Linked DNA regions of Homo sapiens. The protein of the gene in region 1 purifies or fractionates together with the protein of each later gene. This does not show direct contact. Each region holds a gene or a part of one and is shown on either strand. Other genes may lie near its edges. The genes, in order: REPS2 and GNL2.

Region 1 (3,822 bases):
GTTAACAACACAGGGCTCCAAAAATAAAATCTCATATTCACAGGCGGTCAGGAAGATAGACACCAAATGAAACAAATTTATTGGGATGAATTATTTACACCTGAAGTAATTCCCATTTTATAACTTGAATAAAAGCTGTGAAATGGGCCTTTTCAAACATTTGTGTTCCATTTATTCCAAGACATTTTAATAAGTATTTCTTCCTGACAAACCATATTAACTGGAATGCCCTTTTTGTGTAAGAATTAATAGCACTTAGAAGACCTGCAGGTGTCCCCTGTGAACAAGTCTGAAGGAAAATAATACAAGAACATTATTTTTAGCAAAAATTCTACATTAACTTAGCCAGACTACCTACCTCTACCTTATGTATTATTAGGCATGAATGCCTAAGTATATGTGTGTGTGTGCATAAATGTGCACTCGTGTATGTGCATGGACCAGCATATATCTGTGGCTCTTGAGAAAAATACAGAACGTTTTAATACCAGTATTTCCCAATTAACAACAAATTCACAGAACACGCATAACCAGAGTGACCACGCATCCTACTGCGCCCATTACAGTCTCCATTTAAAACTGTCTGTCCAGCATAAGTACATTAGCACTCTCTTTACTTTTCAAAACCGTCCATGGTTGGGATGATAAATCAGTGCAGTTACCACAGGGATAATCTACAACCTTTCATCCCACAGCAAGAAACACCGAATTCTTAGAGCAAAAGAGCAACTGATGTTCTCCTAGAAAAACAGCCATATGTGCCATTACTGGGAGATAGGTTCTAGAAAAGAGCAACTGAACTAGAATGGACTGTGACCACTGTACAGATCTGATTAATATTGATAATTGGCTGGGTGCAGTGGCTCAGGCCTGTAATCCCAGCACTTTGAGAGGTTGAGGCAGGATGATCACTTGAGGCCAGGAGTTTGAGACCAGACTGGGCAACATAGTAAGACTCCATCACTATAAAAAATAAAATGAAATTGGCTGGGAATGGTGGCTCATGCCTGTAGTTCCAGCTACTCAGGAGGCTGAGGGGGAAAGGATCACTTGAGCCCAGGAATTCGAGGCTACAATGAGCCATGATCATGCTACTGCACCCCAGCCTGGGTGACAGAGTGAGACTTTGTCTCTAAAAAATAAAAATAAAAAATAGAAAGTGAAAAGACAGCCCACAGAATGAGAGAAAATATTTACAAAGAGGGCTCAATTTTCTCATATATCTAACAAGGGAGTTGTATCCAGAATATATAAAGAATTCATAACTCAAAAGTAAAAAGATTAATAATCCAATTAAAAGTGGGCAAAGGGTGTGAATACACATTTCTCCAAAGAAGATAAACAAATGGCCAATAGGCACATGAAAAGATGATCAATGTCGTTAGCCACAAAAGAAATGCAAATCAAAACCATGAGATCACACTTCACACTCACTAGGATGGCTATAATAAAAAAAAAAGATAAGTGTTGACAAAATGGAGAAATTGGAACCCTCATACGTTGCCAACGGGAACATAAAATGGTGCAGCCACTATGAAAAGTGTGGTAGTTCTTCGAAATATTAAAGACAGAGTTACCACATGACCTAGCAATTCCACTCCTAGGTACAGACCCAAGAGAAATGAAAATGTAAGTCCACACAAAAACATGTACACAAACAGTATAGTGGCATTACTCTTAAGAGCCAAAAAAGCAGAAATAACCAAAATGTCCATTGACTGATGAATGGATGAATAAAATGTGGTCTATCCATACAATGGAATATTATTCAGCCATAAAAAGATAAGTTCAGATTTATGCTACAACTTGGATAAACCTTGAAAATATTATGCTAAGTGAAAGAAGCCAGTCACAAAAGACCACGTTTCATTATTCCATTTATGTGAAATGACAAGAATATGCAAAGCCATGGAGACAGAAAGGAGATTCGTGGTTGCCAGGGGCTGAGGGGGAAGGAGAGAATGGGGAGTGATTGCTAATGGGCGTGGATATATATTATTTTAGGCATGACAAAAGTTAGATTGTGGTGATGGTTGCATGACTTTGTGAATAAACTAAGAACCACTGAATTGTACATTTAAAAACATGAACTGTATGCTATGTGAATTATATTGCAATAAAGCTGTTATAAAAAAGAGAAAAAGAAAAGATCTCTGTATGAACTCCACCAGATGCCCTGACATCTACTCTGGAGACTGTTAAGCCACTGCTGACTAAAATGAACATAAAGCTGAAATTAAAGTGGAGTGCTGGGGTAGAACATGGAAGAAAATTGAGCCATCTTTGTCCCTGATAGGGATTCTTCACCTTCCAGGCTTAACAGGGGCTGGAAGATGGTCAAAGTTCTCGGTGAATGTGATGAACAAAATATACTTCCTTTATGGACTGATACCACCAGGGACCTGTCCATTTGAAAAAAAGAAAATCTTCTGAAGGAGAGGGCTGCAGAGATTCAGAATGGGACTTTGGCTTCAAAGACAAGTTGCTAACATCTCCCACAGAACCTGCTGCTTTTCATTCTACAACGTGTAAGCAGAAGAAAATCTGCAGCAGCATCTGAGACCTGCAAGACCCCAAAAGCAGGGTCATGATGGGTCTTGAGCATTTATGTTAGTGACCGGTCAGGCTCACTTGCAGTCAAGTGACAGGAGCAGGTTTCTGTCCTCAACACCTCCCTCAATTTCACTACAAAGAAATTGAAGCAAGTGATGGCTCTTCTCAAAGCCAAAGTTTTACAGAGAAGGATAGTTTGTCCAGAGCATCATTGTCTCAGTCCCTGGCCATGTCCACAGGTGTCTTCACCCTCCCTCCAATACCTGTTCCAGCTGGTTAGATAAATATAATGGAAGTTCTGCATGTATCCATTCTGTGCTGAGGCGACCAACAACAGAAACTCTTTACGGAGATTTTAAAAGAATCACATACCACACCTACTGAAAGTGTGTCTGTGGGTGAAGGAGCTAGCCATTTGCCCTGAAGGAAAAGGAGATAACACAGGCAGAGAGGCAAAATTGCCACTTACAATACTTTCATCTTGCCAGGAAAATTTGGGCCCTCACAAGGAAGAGGAGTAGGAAACAACAGAAGGTGAGAGGAAGGGAAAGAAATCAAACCAAACCAAACACCACAGCCTAGGACTCGCCTGCCCCTTTAGGTCAGGTTAAGTCCTATAGCTTATAAAGCCTTCTATGTGACTGGGAGACTTGAATCCCATCACAGAGATGAGCAAGATAAACTTACAACCATGAAATCCTTCTGTTGGTGCGCACGTAAATGTCAACACATTTACATATCCGTCGACATCTCAGAGCGAGATTCCTACCTCACTCTTGTTTATGTGGTCTACTTACTTTTGGACTGTTGGATGCGGTTTCATGGTTGCCGCAGAAGCTGGCCCACTTGCAGCAGTGGAAGGCTCTTGGTTTTCTGTAGCTTGGTTTTCTGGTCTGAATTTCCTACGAATGGGCTTTGATGGTGGCTGAGAATACAGTACATCCTGTGGATTTAAAACAAAATAAAAATTAAAAAGTTAAACATTTCAATGTTCCCTCCACTCTTCCTTCCAGTGTCCCACATGCCTTTAGCCCCAACCCCAAGATCAGGAGGGTACTCTATTTACTGACCCATGGCTCAGCAAGAACTGGGGGGACACAGGCATCAGAGTCCAGTGGTCTTCCCTTTTTTCTTTTTCTTTTTAAATGTTTCAAGAAGTCTATTACTTCTTGTCACCTGAAACTCACACAGACCCTGTGTGCATCTCACACCATGGGGCCTTTCCTAACTGAAGACAAGATAGGCTCCTGCCTCACTTTGAAGCCTTTT
Region 2 (3,822 bases), on another chromosome or scaffold:
GTTTTAGAATTTGGAATTCCGGCGTAAATCACCCTCTACGTGAAAAATTCATTTAAACCAGCCTTTGAATAATTACCCAAAAAACTCAAGTATGTATGTGTTTTTTTTTTAAAGTAAACAGTAACCAGATTTTTTAGAACGTCACCATTAGTTGTTATTCATCTAGCAGAAATCATTACGTGCTCTGTTGCAAGAGGTTAAATGGCTTTTGGGCAATCTGTTTCAAATGTAGAAGTACTTTGTGTTTACTGGAATTGGTATTTCATGATCATTTAAAACCAAAGTAAGAAGTCCTTTTGATGGAAAATATATTCTGTAAATCAAACTTCGCTGTTGCCATTTTTCTGTTGTCAACCAATATCTGTTCTTTCCTCAATTTAGGAACAGTCGTGGTAAAATAATTAAACCCCTGCAATATCAATCAACGGTGGCTTCTGGCACAGTGGCAAGAGTAGAGCCAAATATTAAATGGTTTGGTGAGTATTATCCCCTGTTACTTTGCTCTACAAAATATATGCTGAGTGGAAACGGCTAGGATGTTTAAATGTCTAAACAGCAGGAGTTTTTGGTGAGTGAAACCGGCAAGGATTATCTGAGAAAGGGATAAGAAGAATTACTGGGAAAAGTAGTGGTGGTCAATTTAATAAATAACTTCTTTTTGAAGAGCGCTCACCATTAGTAATTGTAATTGAACCCTCTTAAGCAGATAAGACCATCCTTAATGACTAGCATTCACAGACCTTAGAATGCTCATCTTAATCTTTTCTGCTTTCCTAAAGAGATACTGTTGGAGAGGTGGCCTTGTAGGTTTTGTGCATATATCCTTCAGGGTAAGTGCATTAGCCCGAAGTTCCTCTGAAATACTTCTTAATGGGGTTTTTATTTGAACTTGGGTGACAATTAAAGGGTCTCACTGTTGAACTGTCCAACAGTGAATAGAGTATCTTCAGTCTCAGGGTGATCACAGCTTCTTCCTTGGAAAACTCCCTGTCTCATTTCAGTCTGGGCTCTTAACTTTGCCCTTAGCCACTGGTAAATGTATGGGCACTTTAGATGATCAGACCCCAGTGTTTGCTTGGTGTTTGACCTCTGTCCTTGGGGGCAGGTGGCAGCTATCTTTGAGTCTCTTATACTTTCAGTGGGATACTTCCTAAGAACTGCAACACAGAAAGGTGTCAAAACTCTGCAGAGAAGCATTTAGCATGGCTGCTGGGTACTGTGACTCGATTAGACTGCCTGGGTTTGAATTCTAGTTCTGTCATTTATGTGCCAGTGGGCAAGTTATTAAGTCTGTCTGTTCATCAGTTTTCTCATCCCTAACATGAGAATAAGATGAAACCTATCTCATAAGACTGTCATGGTAATCAAATGAGTAAATACAGGCAGGGCGCAGTGGCTCACGCCTGTAATCCCAGCACTTTGGGAGGCCAAGGCTGGTGAATCACTTGAGGTCAGGCATTCGAGACCAGCCTGGCCAACACAGTGAAACCCCCATCTCTACTAAATATACAAAAATTAGCCAGGTGTTGTGGTGGGCACCTGTAATCCCAGCTACTTGGGAGGCTGGGGCAGGAGAATCCCTTGAGCCCAGGAGGCAGAGGTTGCAGTGAGCTGAGATTGTGCCACTGCACTCCAGCCTGGGTGACAGAGTGAGACTCCATCTCAAAAAAAAAAAAAAAAAAAGAGTAAATATATATAAAGTGCTTAGAATAGCGCCTAGCAAATAGTGAGTATAATATAAGCATTACTTGCTACCGTCATTACCACCTTGCTGTTTTGCATTTATGCCGCAGCATGCTGTTTAATTGAATGCTTTTCAGGGTCTCCCTCACAAGATGTTTTCCAGGTGGTGGTGCAGGGCTCTATCTTGTTCCCTTGCATGGACTCATTGGTTAATAGTCCCTTTGAATCCTCATAACCCTAAAAGTGGCTAACTATGACTCAAATTTCAGTGTTTCAAGATTCTCTGTCTATACTGACTGATCAGCTGTGATTGGCTCCAGGTTTCTCTGCTAGATCTAGCAGGTAGTAGGACATTTGACAGATCTCAGTTCCATTCCACGCTATTTATTTCTCAGTTTCATTTAGTTAGGAAACTGGACTTGGAAAACTATTGAAACCCTTTGTGGGTCTGGATTTGTGGAATAGTTCATAGTGTGCAAGTGCGGGAGAGGCAGTTTTTTGGTTTTTTCCTCTTTTAAGTTTGAAAACAGCTCCAAGGGATGGATGGATCAGGTGCTTGGGTAAGTGAGGGTAATTTAAAATCTTGCCTTTCACCGTGTCAGTGGAAGATGGATGCGCAAATATTAACTAAGTGGCAACATTCTTTATTTGTAAAACAGGAAACACACGTGTGATTAAGCAGTCATCATTACAAAAATTTCAAGAGGAAATGGATACAGTTATGAAGGATCCATACAAAGTTGTCATGAAGCAAAGCAAGTTACCAATGTCTCTTCTCCATGATCGAATCCGGCCTCATGTAAGATGTAGGATATCCCTGGTGATGGAATTTCCTGGGCAAACTCCATGCAGATCCCTCTCTAACATATTTGTCTTTTGTTTTTCCTTAGAAAATAGTGACTTTAATGTAGCAATGATGAACTTTCTAAGACCTCTCTTTTCACCTTTTCATGTTTAGTATGAGGTGCAGTAGTGTAGTGGATCAAAGCACAGGTTTTGGAGTTGAGACCTGAATTTTAATCCTTGCTCTATCCCTTCCTGTGCCCTTAGTTGGGTTTCTCCATGAACTTTAACTTCTTTGCCTTGAAAGTATAGATAGGTCGGACACAGTGGCTCACGCCTGTAATCCCAGCACTTGGGAGGCTCAGGCAGGCGGATCACCTGAGGTCAGGAGTTTGAGACCAACCTGACCAACAAGAAGAAACCCTGTCTCTACTAAAAATACAAAATTAGCCAGGCGTGGTGGTGCATACCTGTAATCTCAGCTACTCAGGAGAGGCTGAGGCAGGAGAATCGCTTGAACCTGGGAGGCAGAGATTGCAGTGAGCCAAGATCGTGCCATTGCACTCCAGCCTGGGCAACAGGAGCGAAACTCCGTCTAAAAAAAACAGAAAGTATAGATAACCGACCTCCTTGGGTTATTGGCTACAGATGAAGCATCTGTAAAGCACTTGGCCCATAGTGAGCACATAGCACACCACCTAATAAGAGCTAAATTGATAACAGCTATTAGTAATATTATTTATTTTGGTAGGCAAACTTGTTTTAAGTGGTAATTCCATCAAACTTTGGGACAGCGTAGAATTAGGATTGAGTTGGTAGAACTTTGGTGTTGCGTACGTTCAGCTTTTGTGAGATCCTTGAGATTTTTTCTCAGCTGAAGGAAGGGGTGCTGGTCACATTGGTTGTCAATTGCTAAAATTTGAAGTGCAGTAAGGATTCAATCTGGGTTGAGTGGAATGAGTTTCACACAGAACAAAGAAAGAATCTGTTGTTTGTCTGCTTATTTTTACTTGCATTGAATAATAAATTCCCAGAAATGTAGCCAGTACGTAAGCTTCAGTTCCAGTATGAGGAGGGGAGAAAAACATTGACATGCATACGTGGGTTAAATAGTTCAGGCTGGGCGCGGTGGCTCACGCCTGAATCCCAGCACTTTGGGAAGCCAAGGCGGGTGGATCACAAGGTCAGGAGATTGAGACCATCCTGGCTAACACGTGAAATCCCGTCTCTACTAAAAATACAAAAAAAAATTAGCCGGGCGTGGTGGCGGGCACCTGTAGTCCCAGCTACTCAGGAGGCTGAGGCAGGAGAATGATATGAACCCGGGAGGCAGAGCTTGCAGTGAGCCGAGATTGC

What was found.
Region 2: the proteins of REPS2 (region 1) and GNL2 fractionate together in Homo sapiens (co-fractionation; one large-scale study listed by BioGRID). This does not show direct contact.

The regions. Positions count from the first base shown.
Region 1 is NC_000023.11:17,134,935-17,138,756, reverse strand, and holds part of REPS2 (ralBP1-associated Eps domain-containing protein 2), read right to left. Parts: intron 3,497-3,822; coding exon 3,351-3,496; intron 1-3,350. UniProt on the Homo sapiens protein: Involved in ligand-dependent receptor mediated endocytosis of the EGF and insulin receptors as part of the Ral signaling pathway. By controlling growth factor receptors endocytosis may regulate cell survival.
Region 2 is NC_000001.11:37,589,366-37,593,187, reverse strand, and holds part of GNL2 (nucleolar GTP-binding protein 2), read left to right. Parts: intron 1-381; coding exon 382-476; intron 477-2,342; coding exon 2,343-2,482; intron 2,483-3,822. UniProt on the Homo sapiens protein: GTPase that associates with pre-60S ribosomal subunits in the nucleolus and is required for their nuclear export and maturation.